4 linked regions of the Homo sapiens genome follow. The protein of the gene in region 1 purifies or fractionates together with the protein of each later gene. This does not show direct contact. Each region holds a gene or a part of one and is shown in the gene's direction. Other genes may lie near its edges.

What was found. Proteins that work in one complex are often made in the same cells at the same time.
Region 2: the proteins of WWC2 (region 1) and LATS2 purify together in Homo sapiens (affinity purification with western blotting, with the first as the bait; one study listed by BioGRID). This does not show direct contact.
Region 3: the proteins of WWC2 (region 1) and LATS1 purify together in Homo sapiens (affinity purification with western blotting, with the first as the bait; one study listed by BioGRID). This does not show direct contact.
Region 4: the proteins of WWC2 (region 1) and INAVA purify together in Homo sapiens (co-immunoprecipitation; one large-scale study listed by IntAct). This does not show direct contact.

What each region holds. Positions count from the first base shown.
Region 1 is NC_000004.12:183,097,998-183,102,056, forward strand, and holds the start of WWC2 (protein WWC2), read left to right. Parts: upstream 1-1,259; 5' UTR 1,260-1,494; coding exon 1,495-1,625; intron 1,626-4,059. UniProt on the Homo sapiens protein: Regulator of the Hippo signaling pathway, also known as the Salvador-Warts-Hippo (SWH) pathway.
Region 2 is NC_000013.11:20,981,587-20,985,086, reverse strand, and holds part of LATS2 (serine/threonine-protein kinase LATS2), read left to right. Parts: intron 1-1,280; coding exon 1,281-1,863; intron 1,864-3,438; coding exon 3,439-3,500. UniProt on the Homo sapiens protein: Negative regulator of YAP1 in the Hippo signaling pathway that plays a pivotal role in organ size control and tumor suppression by restricting proliferation and promoting apoptosis.
Region 3 is NC_000006.12:149,708,102-149,711,601, reverse strand, and holds part of LATS1 (serine/threonine-protein kinase LATS1), read left to right. Parts: intron 1-3,500. UniProt on the Homo sapiens protein: Negative regulator of YAP1 in the Hippo signaling pathway that plays a pivotal role in organ size control and tumor suppression by restricting proliferation and promoting apoptosis.
Region 4 is NC_000001.11:200,911,900-200,914,070, forward strand, and holds part of INAVA (innate immunity activator protein), read left to right. Parts: coding exon 1-238; intron 239-1,637; coding exon 1,638-1,730; 3' UTR 1,731-2,171. UniProt on the Homo sapiens protein: Expressed in peripheral macrophages and intestinal myeloid-derived cells, is required for optimal PRR (pattern recognition receptor)-induced signaling, cytokine secretion, and bacterial clearance.

The sequences.
Region 1 (4,059 bases):
CTCAGTAACCCAGAAGAAGATGACGGGGGACGGTGGTGTAGACCCGGCTGGAGAGGAGTCCAGGGCCTGGGAGGCGCCCCCTCTGACTGAGGGGCTGGGGACCCTGAAGCTTGGCGTCCAGGCCCCGCCAGCGCTGCACCCGGCATTGTCCCGCCTGGGGCAGGCGTCCGGTCCCTCGGCAGTGCGGGCCAGCACGTACGTAGTAGCTGCTGAATAAATAAATGCCTATGCAACAGGGAACGTCCCGGCCCACCCCGGCCGGGCCAGGGCCTAGGAAGGGCGGGCGTCCGGCGCCGCCGTGGGTCCCTCCGGCGTGGCCGCCCACACCTCCTGGCCACGGCGGGGCTGCGGTGGGGGGACATCCTGGGGCGGGCGGCTGGACGGAAGGGACTAGAGTCGGGGCGCGTCCACGGCCAACCGCCCCGAACCAAGCAGGGGAGGCCAGGGACCAGGAGCTTCCGGGGCCCCGCGGCTGGAGCGCCCGGACGCGAAGGGGCGGCGGGTGACGGGGCGCGGTGCGGGCGGCTACAGGGCCGGACGGGAGTTCCTCCGCTTTCCGCCGCGCGGCTCGCGGTCTCAGCCGAGGTCATCGAGGGCCAGGAGCCCTGGCGGAGGCCCCGCCGTCCCGGACCCACCGACGCACTCCCAGGGCTTGGCGCTTTCCCACCACCCCGGACCGCCCTTGGGGTGCCGGAGGGGCTCGGGGCGCGGCGTGGGGAGCCTTTGTGCCCTCTCCGCTTGTTGAGGTTTTTTCTCCGGAGGAGAGCTCCCCGCCCGCCACCCCTTTCCTCTCGAAAGTTTTGTGGTTTCCCTAGAAGACGAAAGAGGTTGAGAAGGTTGCGGAGACTTTTGCAATCTTCCCCGTCCAGAAACTCTAAAACCTCTCGGCGTTTGGCCCAGGGGAGCTATCTGGGGTCAAGGGGAGGGAGCTGGCCGCACATTCCTTCGCCCGCCTTCCTCCCACCTGGAGCCGCGGCCCCGCGGGGCAGTGCGTCCGAGCTGGTGCGGCGACGCCGGCAGCGGCGGGGTTAAGCTCAGGAATGCGGCGCGAGGAATGCGCATGCAGATGAGGCGGGCGGGCGCATGCTAATCGCATGCAAATGAGGGGCCCGCCGCTGCCGCGGCAGCGCCGCAGCTTCCCGGATCCGAGCCCAGACGGCGGCGGCTCCGGCAGCCTGGGCGCCGCGACCCTCGGCGGCCAGAGGGGGACGGGGCGGAGGAGGAGGAAGAGGCGGAGGCAGCGGCGGCGAGGGGGAGGAGGGTTCGCTCGCCGGCTCCGACGCAGACATGGTGGACTGATCCGCAGCGGGGCCGCGAACAGCGTTTCCTGAGGCACCTCCCGCGCGTGGTTCCGCCGCGCCCCGCGCCCTGCGCCCCTCAGCCCCTCGCCGGCGCCCGCGTCGCGGGTTGGCAGCCTAGCCCGGCAGCCGCGTTCCCGCCGCGTCCCGCGCCCGGTACCTATGGAGGCGCCGCTCGCCGGCGAGGCCGCCGACCATGCCTAGGAGGGCCGGGAGCGGTCAGCTGCCGCTGCCCCGGGGCTGGGAGGAGGCCAGGGACTACGACGGCAAGGTCTTCTACATTGACCACAACACCAGGAGGACCAGCTGGATCGACCCCCGGGACAGGTGGGCGCCGGCCGCGGGGGCGCGGGCCCGTTCGGACACGGCGGCTGTTGTCCCGGAGACCCGGCCGCGCGGGGGGCTGGGGCGGCGCCGGCCCGCGGTGCCCCGAGGGGTCCCGGGAGGGATGTGGGGCTGGCTGCTCCGGCGGGGCCGAGGAGCCGCCCGTACCCGGGCTCCTCCGCCCACCGGCTTCCCGACGCCCCTCCGGGGACCCGGCCCCGAGGCAAGGCTGGAGTCGCTGCCCCGGGCCGACGCCGCGCGCCAGGCTAACGGACCCGAGGGGCCACCTGAGCCCTGTTAGGAACTTCCCTAGGCTTCGAGGTGCCCACGTGGAGGCTGCAGGACACCTTCGGCCTCTGGGCGGCGGGGGTGGGCTAGGGCCTCACTGCCAGTTGGGGAACGAGCCCTCCGGGCCACCTGTGGCATCCCTCAGGCCGTCCTTGGCGCGGGAGCCTGGGCTGCGAGCTCTTGGCGGGGGCGCCCAGACTGGCCGGAGGTCCCGAGCTGGGAAGGGGCTCCCGCCCCCCGCCGGGCCCTGCTAGTGGGTGTGACTGACTTTGCCCCTCAGAGTTTAAAAACGCGCGTTTGGGGGTTTCGCTGTCTGTCGTTAGTCTTCACCTGAAAACTTGAACCGACTCCCAGATCGGGAACAGGCATATTGTGTTTGGAAGGGAGATGTAGTGAAATTAACGTTGGGTATTGAGGCACTCTGATTTGAGCTTAGCCTGGTTTCTTTGTTTTTTGTTTTTTAAATTGGTTCAGGAACTGAAGGTTCACAAATGTTTCTGTGTCCCATATTTTTTTTACCCTTAAAATTTCTTAGAATTATTGTAAGAATAATAGGAGGTATTCCTAATTATAAATTTGTAAATTATCCATTAAGGAGATATTCCTAATTGTAAATTTAAATAACGTGCCACCAGGGATAACTTCGACATTTGGACTTTTGTCATTTCTGAAAATTATAACTTTATTGAATGTGGCCCTTTGGGCTTTATATACTTTTTAGGTGCTTCTCCTATTTAACATTTTCCCTTTTCTCAATTTGAAGCTGAAATACCTAACTACTTTATAATCTCAGTTACTTTTGCCCTAAAAATGTTGTTTTTGAAAGCTACTAAAAGGCAATTACAAGAAAGTTATAAATAACATTATAAATTTATGGAACAATCCTTGTTCAATTATCCGTGAAGCTACGGGCCTAGGTTTCCCTCCTGAAATGAGAAAAGGCACCTGTGCTGAGGTTCGGTCTTGCCGCAGCCTGGCTGCCTGTTGCTGGCCTGATGAAAATTGTGACAGGCATCACACCTTCCCAGTGTCTCCAGACGTGCTAGTTGTTGTCATAAACTTCACGCTCCAAGCCAGTTATTTGACTTATGCTATTGCACTTTGAAACTACTTAACAGATAGTAAATGTCAGTGCTGATGGTGTGCACCCAACTGCGGCTTTTAAGGCACCTGTATAAATATTTGACTTTTACAGTTGTGTGGTAATTCTTTCTGCTTTCTGATACTTGGAGTTTCAGGTAATTGAAATAACAATAAATTCTTGAAATATTTAGGCATTCTAGGTTCTCTTCTTCGGTTTACATGCTTTACTATATTATCTCAGTTGTGTTTACCGGAAAGGATTACAAGAATATGTAATGTCTGGGTAAAGTAAATAGAAAGTGGAGTGAAATTATATGACTTGGCTATCCATATCACTACTTTTTTCACAAGTCAAGCATGTCCTTTATTTTAAACTCTTAATGGATTAGTAATTATTATGAACTATTTTCAGGAAACTGGATAAACAATTCATTGGATAGGGACAAATAGTTTTGACTAAGATAGCTTTTTATTTTTCCAATTTTCCTTGCAGCTGTTAGGTCTTAAATATTCAGAGACATAAATTTGACGACTTACAAATATTTCTGGATCTCAGAGTTTTAAAAGATACTCTGTTGAGATCAGAGTCACCATTATATACTCAGTTTAAATTTGATTATATTTTCTTTTAGGGCAATTAAGTGACTAAATCTTACTAAATAGAGTAAGAGCTGATGGGAACGTATATTTGGAGTAACTATTAACTCCTGTCAGTTTTGTTACACACTTACCAAACATATGGAAAGAGAGATGTTACACAGGCCAATAGGAGTGTGTGGATTCTTCTGCAGGATCAACTTACAAATTCTGAAAGAAAAACAACTTGATATACTATGGGTCTGCAGTACTTTTGAACTGTTTAAGCCATTTAATTAGAATGGTCACGATGATTTACCTTGCATATTTTTTATGTTATTCTGTTAAGGAAAAGAATTTTGTGTTTTTGATAGTCTATCAGAATTTGTTGAATATTTCTGATTATACAGATAATTATGCCGATTTAGTAGGGGAGGCTAGGGCATTTTATAAGAACATAATTTCATTCAACAGGTAGTCATGCCAGAAT
Region 2 (3,500 bases), on another chromosome or scaffold:
CATATGGATATCTAGTTTTCCCAGCATGTCTCTTTTTCAGTGTACATTCTTGGCACCGTTGTCAAAAATCAGGTGGCTGTAAATACGTGGACTTATTTCTGGGTTCTCTATTCTGTTCCATTGGTCTATGTGTCTGTTTTTATACCAATACCATGCAGTTTCAGTTACTCTAGGCTTGTAACATATTTTGAAGTCAGGTAACAATTTTGTTCTTTTTGCCTAGGATTGCTTTGAGTATTTGGGCTCCCTGTGAATTTTAGTATTGTTTTTTCTAGTAATGTGAAAAATATCATTGGTATTTTGATAGGGATTGCATTTAATTGGTAGATTGATTTGGGTAGTATGGTCATTTTAACAATATTAAATCTTTCTGTCGGTGAACATGGGATCTCTTTTCATTTGTTTGTGTCCTCTTTAGTTTCTTTCTTCAGTGTTTTGTAGTTTTCTTTGTAGAGCTCTTTCACTTTTTGGTTAAATTTACTCCTAGATTTTTTTTATAGCTGTTGTAAATGGCATTCATTATTGGTGTACAGAAATCCAGATATCCATATGCAGAAGAATGAAACTAGACCCTATCTCTCACCATATACAAGTCTATCTAATGTATGCTACTGATTTTTGTATGCTGATTGTTGACTTTTCTTCCTGCTTTCCCATTTTCCCTGAGTTACTGAAAGATTAGATGGCTCTTGGAGTTCTAGGAATGCTGTGGTCCCCTTTTCCACAGATTTGTGTTAATAGAAGTTTCCCTTAGTTTTTAGAGCCAAAAGTATCCTAGAGAAAGAACTTTCTTTTTTATCTTAACTTTTCATTCCATATTCATGTCTATATATGGATATAAAAAAACAAAACTGGCCGGGCACAGTGGCTCAAGCCTGTAATCCCTGCACTTTGGGAGGCCAAGGTGGGCAGATCACCTGAGGTCAGGAGTTCAAGACCAGCCTGGCCAACATGATGAAACGCTGTTTCTACTAAAAATACAAAAATTAGCCAGGTGTCATGGTGGCGGGCACATGTAGTCCCAGCTACTCGGGAGGCTGAGACAGCAGAATCGCTGGAACCCAGGAGGCGGAGGCTGCAGTGAGCTGAGATTGTGCCACTGCACTCCAGCCTAGGCGACAGAGCGAGACTCTGTAGTATATGAGACCCATTCTTCTCTGTTCTCCTTTCTGTAAAATGAGCTAGGTTCCTCTCAGTTCCAGGGCATCCCCATCCCAGTCATTTGTTATCATGGGACTTCTCTAATGTGATTCTTCCTCCTTCCTTTTCCTTCTACACAGGCTGGACTCTGTGAAGCTGAGCAGGAGCAGATGCGGAAGATCCTCTACCAGAAAGAGTCTAATTACAACAGGTTAAAGAGGGCCAAGATGGACAAGTCTATGTTTGTCAAGATCAAAACCCTGGGGATCGGTGCCTTTGGAGAAGTGTGCCTTGCTTGTAAGGTGGACACTCACGCCCTGTACGCCATGAAGACCCTAAGGAAAAAGGATGTCCTGAACCGGAATCAGGTGGCCCACGTCAAGGCCGAGAGGGACATCCTGGCCGAGGCAGACAATGAGTGGGTGGTCAAACTCTACTACTCCTTCCAAGACAAAGACAGCCTGTACTTTGTGATGGACTACATCCCTGGTGGGGACATGATGAGCCTGCTGATCCGGATGGAGGTCTTCCCTGAGCACCTGGCCCGGTTCTACATCGCAGAGCTGACTTTGGCCATTGAGAGTGTCCACAAGATGGGCTTCATCCACCGAGACATCAAGCCTGATAACATTTTGATAGATCTGGATGGTCACATTAAACTCACAGATTTCGGCCTCTGCACTGGGTTCAGGTGGACTCACAATTCCAAATATTACCAGAAAGGTATTGTCTGAAGTGTGCCACATGCACTTTCTATGTGTAGATGTCACTAACCCCATTGCAAGCAACTAAATTTCCCATCCTAGTGGCTCCTAATCATTTTGAAATTTTTATCTGTCACTCCATTATTTTATAAATTGGTGTGACATCCTTCCCTTCCAAAAGGAATAGTGTGATATGCATTTTTTTTTAAGGTAGTGGATTTCAGGTTTACTTTTTTTTTTTTTTTTTTTTGAGACAGAGTTTCGCTCTTGTTGCCCAGGCTGGAGTGCAATGGCGTGATCTCGGCTCACTGCAACCTCTGCCTCCTGGGTTCAAGTGATTCTCCTGCCTCCAGCCTCCCGAGTAGCCGGGATTACAGTCACGCACCACCACCTCTGGCTAATTTTGTATTTTTAGTAGAGACGGGGTTTCTCCGTGTTGGTCAGGCTGGTCTCAAACTCCCAACCTCAGGTGATCCGCCTGCCTCCGCCTCCCAAAGTGCTGGGATTACAGGTGTGAGCCACCGTGCCTGGCCTACTATATTTTTAAGACAGTAGGCTACAAGGTGTCACGGGGCCTTTGTGGGGAACCATCACCTGCCTCATTAAAGCAAGCCTTAAAAAATAAAAGATTTGGCTGGGCATGGTGGCTCACGCCTGTAATCCTAGCACTTTGAAAGCCCAAGGTGGGCGGATCACCTGGGGTCAGGAGTTCGAGACCAGCCTGACCAACGTGGAGAAACCCCGTCTCTACTAAAAATAACAAAATTAGCCGGGCGTGGTGATGCATGCCAGTAATCCCAGCTACTGGGAGGCTGAGGCATGAGAATCGCTTGAACCCGGGAAGCAGAGGTTGCGGTGAGCTGAGATCGCGCCATTGCGCCCCAGCCTGGGCAACAAGAGCGAAACTCTGTCTCAAATAAAATAAAATAAATAAAAGAGTCACAGCCTCCCAAGGAGCCCTCTCTTATAGCCAACCTGCATCTATGTAGTGTATCATTGAACTCCATTTCCTATAGTTCTGCCATTTGGAAAAGCCAAAAACAGCTGATTATTATCTTCTTTATGGCTGAGATTCTTGAAGTAGTTATTTTAATATCATCACTTAGTCTTTTTTCTCTAACTCAAAACTAACTCTAAATCATTTAATTCATTCTCATTTTCTGGCATTGAAGTAACCTTTGTTCATGTTGTTTAAATCCTCCTAAGTTTTCCATGCTCATCTTAAAACATGTGTCAGGCAGTTGTTACCTTTTGATTATGGCCTAAGCGCTAGGAGTGCTGTCCCCGCAGTTCTTCCAGCCTCTCCTGCCTGCAGTGCCTTCCTGCCAGCTCAGCACGGTGCATGGTGTCCTGTGATTCTTCACCGTCATTTCTACCTTGGTGCTAGCGCCAACCTCACCACGTGTGTCTCCAAACTAGGAACAGCAGGCTGCCCCTATGGAGCAGCTCAGCGGGGATTCTCTGTCCTGATATGTCAGGAGCTGATTGGAATGACTTTGCTGTTTTAAGCTGTGGATCTGTTGAGTTATTGAAGAGTGAAAATTCACTTTATATTTTGTTCTTTTCTTTCACTATCCCTGATTCCTGGGTGAAGGGAGCCATGTCAGACAGGACAGCATGGAGCCCAGCGACCTCTGGGATGATGTGTCTAACTGT
Region 3 (3,500 bases), on another chromosome or scaffold:
GATTTTTTTAGTATGAACTTGAGATGATTTAAGAAAAAAAAATTTCATTTTGTTTTTTGAGATGGAGTCTCACCCTGTCACCCAGGCTAGAGTGCAGTGGCACAATCTCCGCTCACTGCAACCTCCGCCTCCCAGGTTCAAGCAATTCTTCTGCCTCAGCCTCCTGAGTAGCTGGGACTACAGGCACATGCCACCACGCCCAGCTAATTTTTGTATTTTTTAGTAGAGATGAGGTTTCACCTTATTGGCCAGGCTGGTCTCAAACTCCTGACCTCGTGATCCGCCTGTCTCGGCCTCCCAAAGTGCTGGAATTACAGGTGTGAGGCACCGTGCCCGGCCAAAAGATATTTTTTTTTTTTTTAACAAAACAGTTTCTTTAAAGTTAGTAAGCCTCTTCCGATCTGTTTGGTTTCCTTCAGTTCTATGTGTCAGTAACCACAGTCGAAGTTCACATGTATTGGTAAACTCATCCAAAGATTTAAGAGCGTCTATTCCTCCTCCTCTCATTTGGTTGTTTGAGGCTATTAGGTTTGATGGGAAGGCTACGTCTTTAATATGGTCTTAACCACAGAAGCACTAGTTAGCTAAGGGGTTTCAGTGGGCATCTGTGCTCAGTCTTTTAATCCTGCCTCTAGGGGTCTAGGTACAAGCTGCTTTTCCAATCCTTCAAGGCTTTAAATTTCTGAACTTTTTCTATTCTCTTCTGTTTTTGCTTTCAAATCTACTACTTCCTTCTTGAACTCATCATTTACTTATAATACTTGCCAAATATCTAATAGCAGCCAATACTCACTTCCAAAATCCTCTTTACCAAACTCCTATAACACTACAAGGTCAGTAGCCTCTTTGTATGTTCACTGACCTTGTAGTTGTATGAAAAGTTATTATAGGCAACAGCGTTACCAGATATTTTGCCACTATAAAACATGATCCTCCATCTTTCCAGCCTCCGGTATCTGTTTCCTCTCAGCCCTTAATCTGACCACTAAGGCAGTATCACTAAGGCAGGACTGCATAGGTTTTTATTGTAGCAGCACCTCACTTCCAGGTACCAGTTTTCTGTATTAGGATAATGAAACACTGAATATACAGATGGACAATGGCCAGATCATATATAAAACTAGAACTCTGACCCATGACCTATGTAGCAATAGGCCCAGTCAGGACTTGGTCAGTAATTACCAGCTTCCCTAATTTTTGTGCCTTCTTCCAATTCGGGACGACTCAGAGAAAGCCAAATATGCTTCCCAAATCAACCACATAGGATACCCCGCTTCCAGTGTCGACGAAGAGTCAAACTCTGTAAAATATTTTAAGAGATCTATTCTAAGCCAAATATGAATGGCTATTGCCCCATGACACAGCCCTCAGGAGCTCCTGAGAACATGTGCCCAAGGTGATCAGACTACAGCTTGGTTTTATACATTTTAGGGAGACATAAGACATCAATCAGTATATGTAAGATGTACATTGGTTAGGTCCAGAAAGGAAGACACCTTGAAGCAGATGGCTTCCAGGTCATAGGTAGATTCACAGATTTTCTGATTGGCAGTTGGTCGAAAGAGTTGTTACTGTCTAAAGACCTAGAATCAATAGAAGGGAGTATCTAGGTTAAGATAAGGGGTTGTGGGCAGGCACAGTGGCTCACGCCTGTAATCCCAACACCTTGGGAGGCCGAGGCAGGTGGATCACGAGGTCAGGAGTTCAAGACCAGCTTGGCCAACATAGTGAAACCCCATCTCTACTAAAAATACAAAAATTAGCGAGGCATGGTAGCGCACGCCTGTAATCCCAGCTACTCAGGAGGCTGAGGCAGGAGAATCACTTGAAACCGGGAGGCGGAGATTGTGGTGAGCCAAGATCAAGCCACTGCATTCCAACCTGGGCAACAGAGTGAGACTCCATCTAAAAAAAAAAAAAAAAAAAAAAAAAAGATAAGGGGTTGTGGAGACCAGGGTTCCCATTATGCAGATAGAATCAATAGGAAGGAATGTCTGAGCCAAGGTAAGGGGTTGTGGAGACCAAAGTTCCCATTATGTAAAGGAAGCCTCCAGGTGGCAGGCTTCAGAGATAATACATTGTAAATGTTTCTTATCAGGGTTGATTCTCTCCTGGATCAGGCAAAAGGCCTGAGAAAGGAAGGGAATTAACTTCAGAATGTAGATTTTCCGCACAAGAGACAGCTTTGCAGGACTGTTTGAAGATATGGCAAAGAAACATAATTTGGGGTCAAATACTTGGATTTCTTTCAGGGCCTGCCATCTGTCATGTGATACTATGCTAGAGTCAGGCTGGAATTGGGTATCTTATTGCTACAGAGAGTCTGTTTTGTCAGTCTTAAGATTTGTTTTAATGTTAGTGCTGGTCAGCTGTGCCTGAATTCCAACAGGGAGGAGGGAATAATGAGGTATGGCCAAACTCCGCTTCCCATCATGGCTGGAACTAGTTTTTCAGGTTAACTTTCAAATGCTCTTGGCTGGGAGGAGGGGTTCATTCAGATGGTTGAAGGACTTAGAATTTTATTTTTGGTTTACATCAGTTAGCCCACCTCCAGTTTCCCATGCCAACAACCTACAATCAGAGCATACCTGATGTCTTCCCCCTTTTTTTAGTATAAAGATTTCCCACTCCCCTGCTTGCCTTTGAATCTTTGCCAAGCACAAGTTGACAGTGGCTGACTCCCTACCTATATAGTAAGATCTAATTAAATAGCCTTTGTTTGTTTCCATTTGGGCAGTCTTTGTCTATTTTCACAATGTTATTAGGCTGTTTTGTGGTAACAAATCCCCAAATATCAATGGCTTAACACAACAGAAATGTTTCTCTTGCTCAGAGTTCAGTGGGAGTCAGTAGGGTTCTCCATCCAGTGGCTTAGGGATCCACCTTCCTTCCATATTGTCAAGCCACCATCTCAGAATGTAACCTACATTGTCATTAAAGCAGGAAAACCGAAGCAAAGTGACTTTTAACTGCCTCAGTCCAGAATTGAGATATGTTACATCTGCTCATCCAGCTTTGGCCAAATCTGGGAAATGGAGTCGAGTACTGTATGTGAATATAGTCTCTGCCAGAATATATTTACCAAAAGCAATTGGCTAAAGATATACACAATTCCTCCATTTCAGCGTTTTTGAGATCAGAAGATTTAGATTATCTTACAATTGAAATTTTTTTTTTTTTTTTTTTTGAGATCCAGTCTCGCTCTGTCGCCCAGGCTGGAGTGCAGTGGTGCAGTCTCGGCTCACTGCAACCTCTGCCTCTGTGGTTCAAGCGATTCTCCTGCCTCAGCCTTCCGAGTAGCTGGGACTACAGGTGCCTGCCACCACGCTCGGCTAATTTTTGTGTTTTTAGTAGAGACGGGGTTTCACCATATTGACCAGGGTGGTCTTGTACAATTAAAATTGAAATGAATATTCAAATGTAATGCTTCTGTTATTTCCCCTGATAAATGAAGTGACATTGTTTCATGGAAATAATAGTTTCTTTAAAATGAATCCTGT
Region 4 (2,171 bases), on another chromosome or scaffold:
CTACCAGCGTCTGGTGCCCTCCCGCAGCCGCATCGTGCGGACGCCCTCCCTGAAGGACAGCCCGGCAGGCCGGGGGCTCAGCAAGGCCGCCGTGTCCGAGGAGCTCAAGTGGTGGCACGAGCGTGCACGCCTCCGGAGCACCCGCCCCCACTCACTGGACCGCCAAGGAGCTTTCCGGGTCAGGAGCCTGCCCCTTGGGAGAGAGGGCTTCGGACGAGCCCTGGGACCCCGGGCACAGGTACGGCTGCTCTGGAGGGACCCCGGGGCCAGGCAGGAGGGCTGTTTTGTTGGGGAGGGGCTGCAATTCTAGTATGTCCAAGGGTACAGAGGCATCAAAGCAGCAACCTAGTGGCCGGGTAATCCCCGTCTAGGAAGAACAGGCCAAAAAATCATTTCCTCTTGGCTTTGGAAGGCACTCTTGGCTTCCCTGGGGCACCTCCTAATTTTGCCTGCCATGTCTAGCTCAAGAGCATATACACTGGTGGAGATGATCCCCGAAGATAGCTGAGACTTTTTCTCTCCCTAAATGATGATGCACAAAGCAGATAAGCCTCTTCATAATCAAAAGTCCAGTCCAAATCAGCCCCTCAGATTTCCATTTGAAGGTCTAGGACAAAGGGAGAGTAGGAAATGAGTTGCAGAAGCCAGAACCTGTGATTTTCTGGGCATCAGCATCCTCCCTGACACCCCTCCTCACCACCAAGCCGAGAAGAAGGGTGGCATCAGAGTTAAGAGCACCCACCCTCAAGCTAGACCACCAGGTTCAAATCCCAGTTCTGCCACTTACGAGCTGTATGATTGGGCAAGTTACTTAACCCCTTTGGACCTAGTGTTTCCTCCCCTGTGAAATGAGAGTAGTAGAGTACCTATCTCATAGGGCTGCCAAGAGGCTGAAATGATTAGAGCAATGCATGGTAAGCGCTAGATATGTGATATTATTATCATCTGGGGCCACAGAGGCCAGGGAGCAGGCTGGAGGGTAGTATATAGGATAGAGCACCCTGACACTGGGTAGGGTGGCAGCCTTGGTTTCCTTGGCCCCTATTTCTTCATTCTGGAAGTGGGGAGCCACACACAGGAATCCTTTCTTTATTCTTTCTCCCTGGTACGGAGGGCTCTGCAGGTGATGTGCTCCAGAAGTTACCAACAAGCTGCTTCTTTGAGACCCCAGATTCCCAGCAGACCCAGCTGCGTGTCCCTCCCCCACCCACGGTTCTTTGGACTGCAGCTGGCATCCTGGGCCTGGCAGCACCCTGGCCCCGGTCCGAGGCCGCGCCCTCCAGCTGACGTGCTTTTCCCTTTCTGCGCGCTTGGGCCTGTCCTTGGCTGGATAGACCCAGCCCATCCCAACGTGCCAGACAGGGAGGGTGATGAGAAGTGAGCCCAGGAAAGGTGGGGGAGGAGGAGGTCAGGGCGCCTGTCACACCCCAAAAGAACATGGAGGAAAATGTGTAAAGGGGGTCCCTGAAGAACAGAGAGCATCCTGGGAGGAAGGGGCTGAGTGCCAGGGCCTGCTGCTGCTGCTGCTTCTGCTGGTCAGTGTCCCTAAGGGATAAGGATGGTGTAACTGTGCCTGCTGTCCCCGCTTTTCTGCCTGGTTCATTTACCCACCTGTCCTTTCTTCCTGACCCTGGCAGGTGCCCACAGTTTGTGTGCTGCGGAGATCGCCTGATGGGGCCCCTGTGCAAGTCTTTGTACCTGAAAAAGGAGAGATCATCAGCCAGGTGTAACTCTGCGCCCCACGCTGGAAAAAACTGTTTCATAGAGGGGCTGGGCTGAGACCCCCCCACCCCTGAGTGCCTCTTTCAGCTCCCCCATCCCCATCGCAGGCCGATGACCTGGAGCTGAGACCTTTTATTATTTTTTTTTTACACGACTTTTTTCAGAAGCCCTGACCTAAGGATTTATATATGTGGATTGTCCTCAATACCCCTGTGATATGATTATGTTTTATCCCCCAGAGTTTGGCCTACTGGACTTAAGGCCTTGCCTGTCTGACTGACAGCCTCTATCTCCTTATATAAGACAAGTGGCAGGGGACGAGTGAAGCAGAGTGAGCCACCTTGGGAGTTCTCCAACGCTCTGTGCTCTGGTTCTAAGAAATTCCCTGGGGAACTGCCCCTGGCCCTCCTGTCCCACTATTGCTGGAGGCTGGACATGGTACATACTCA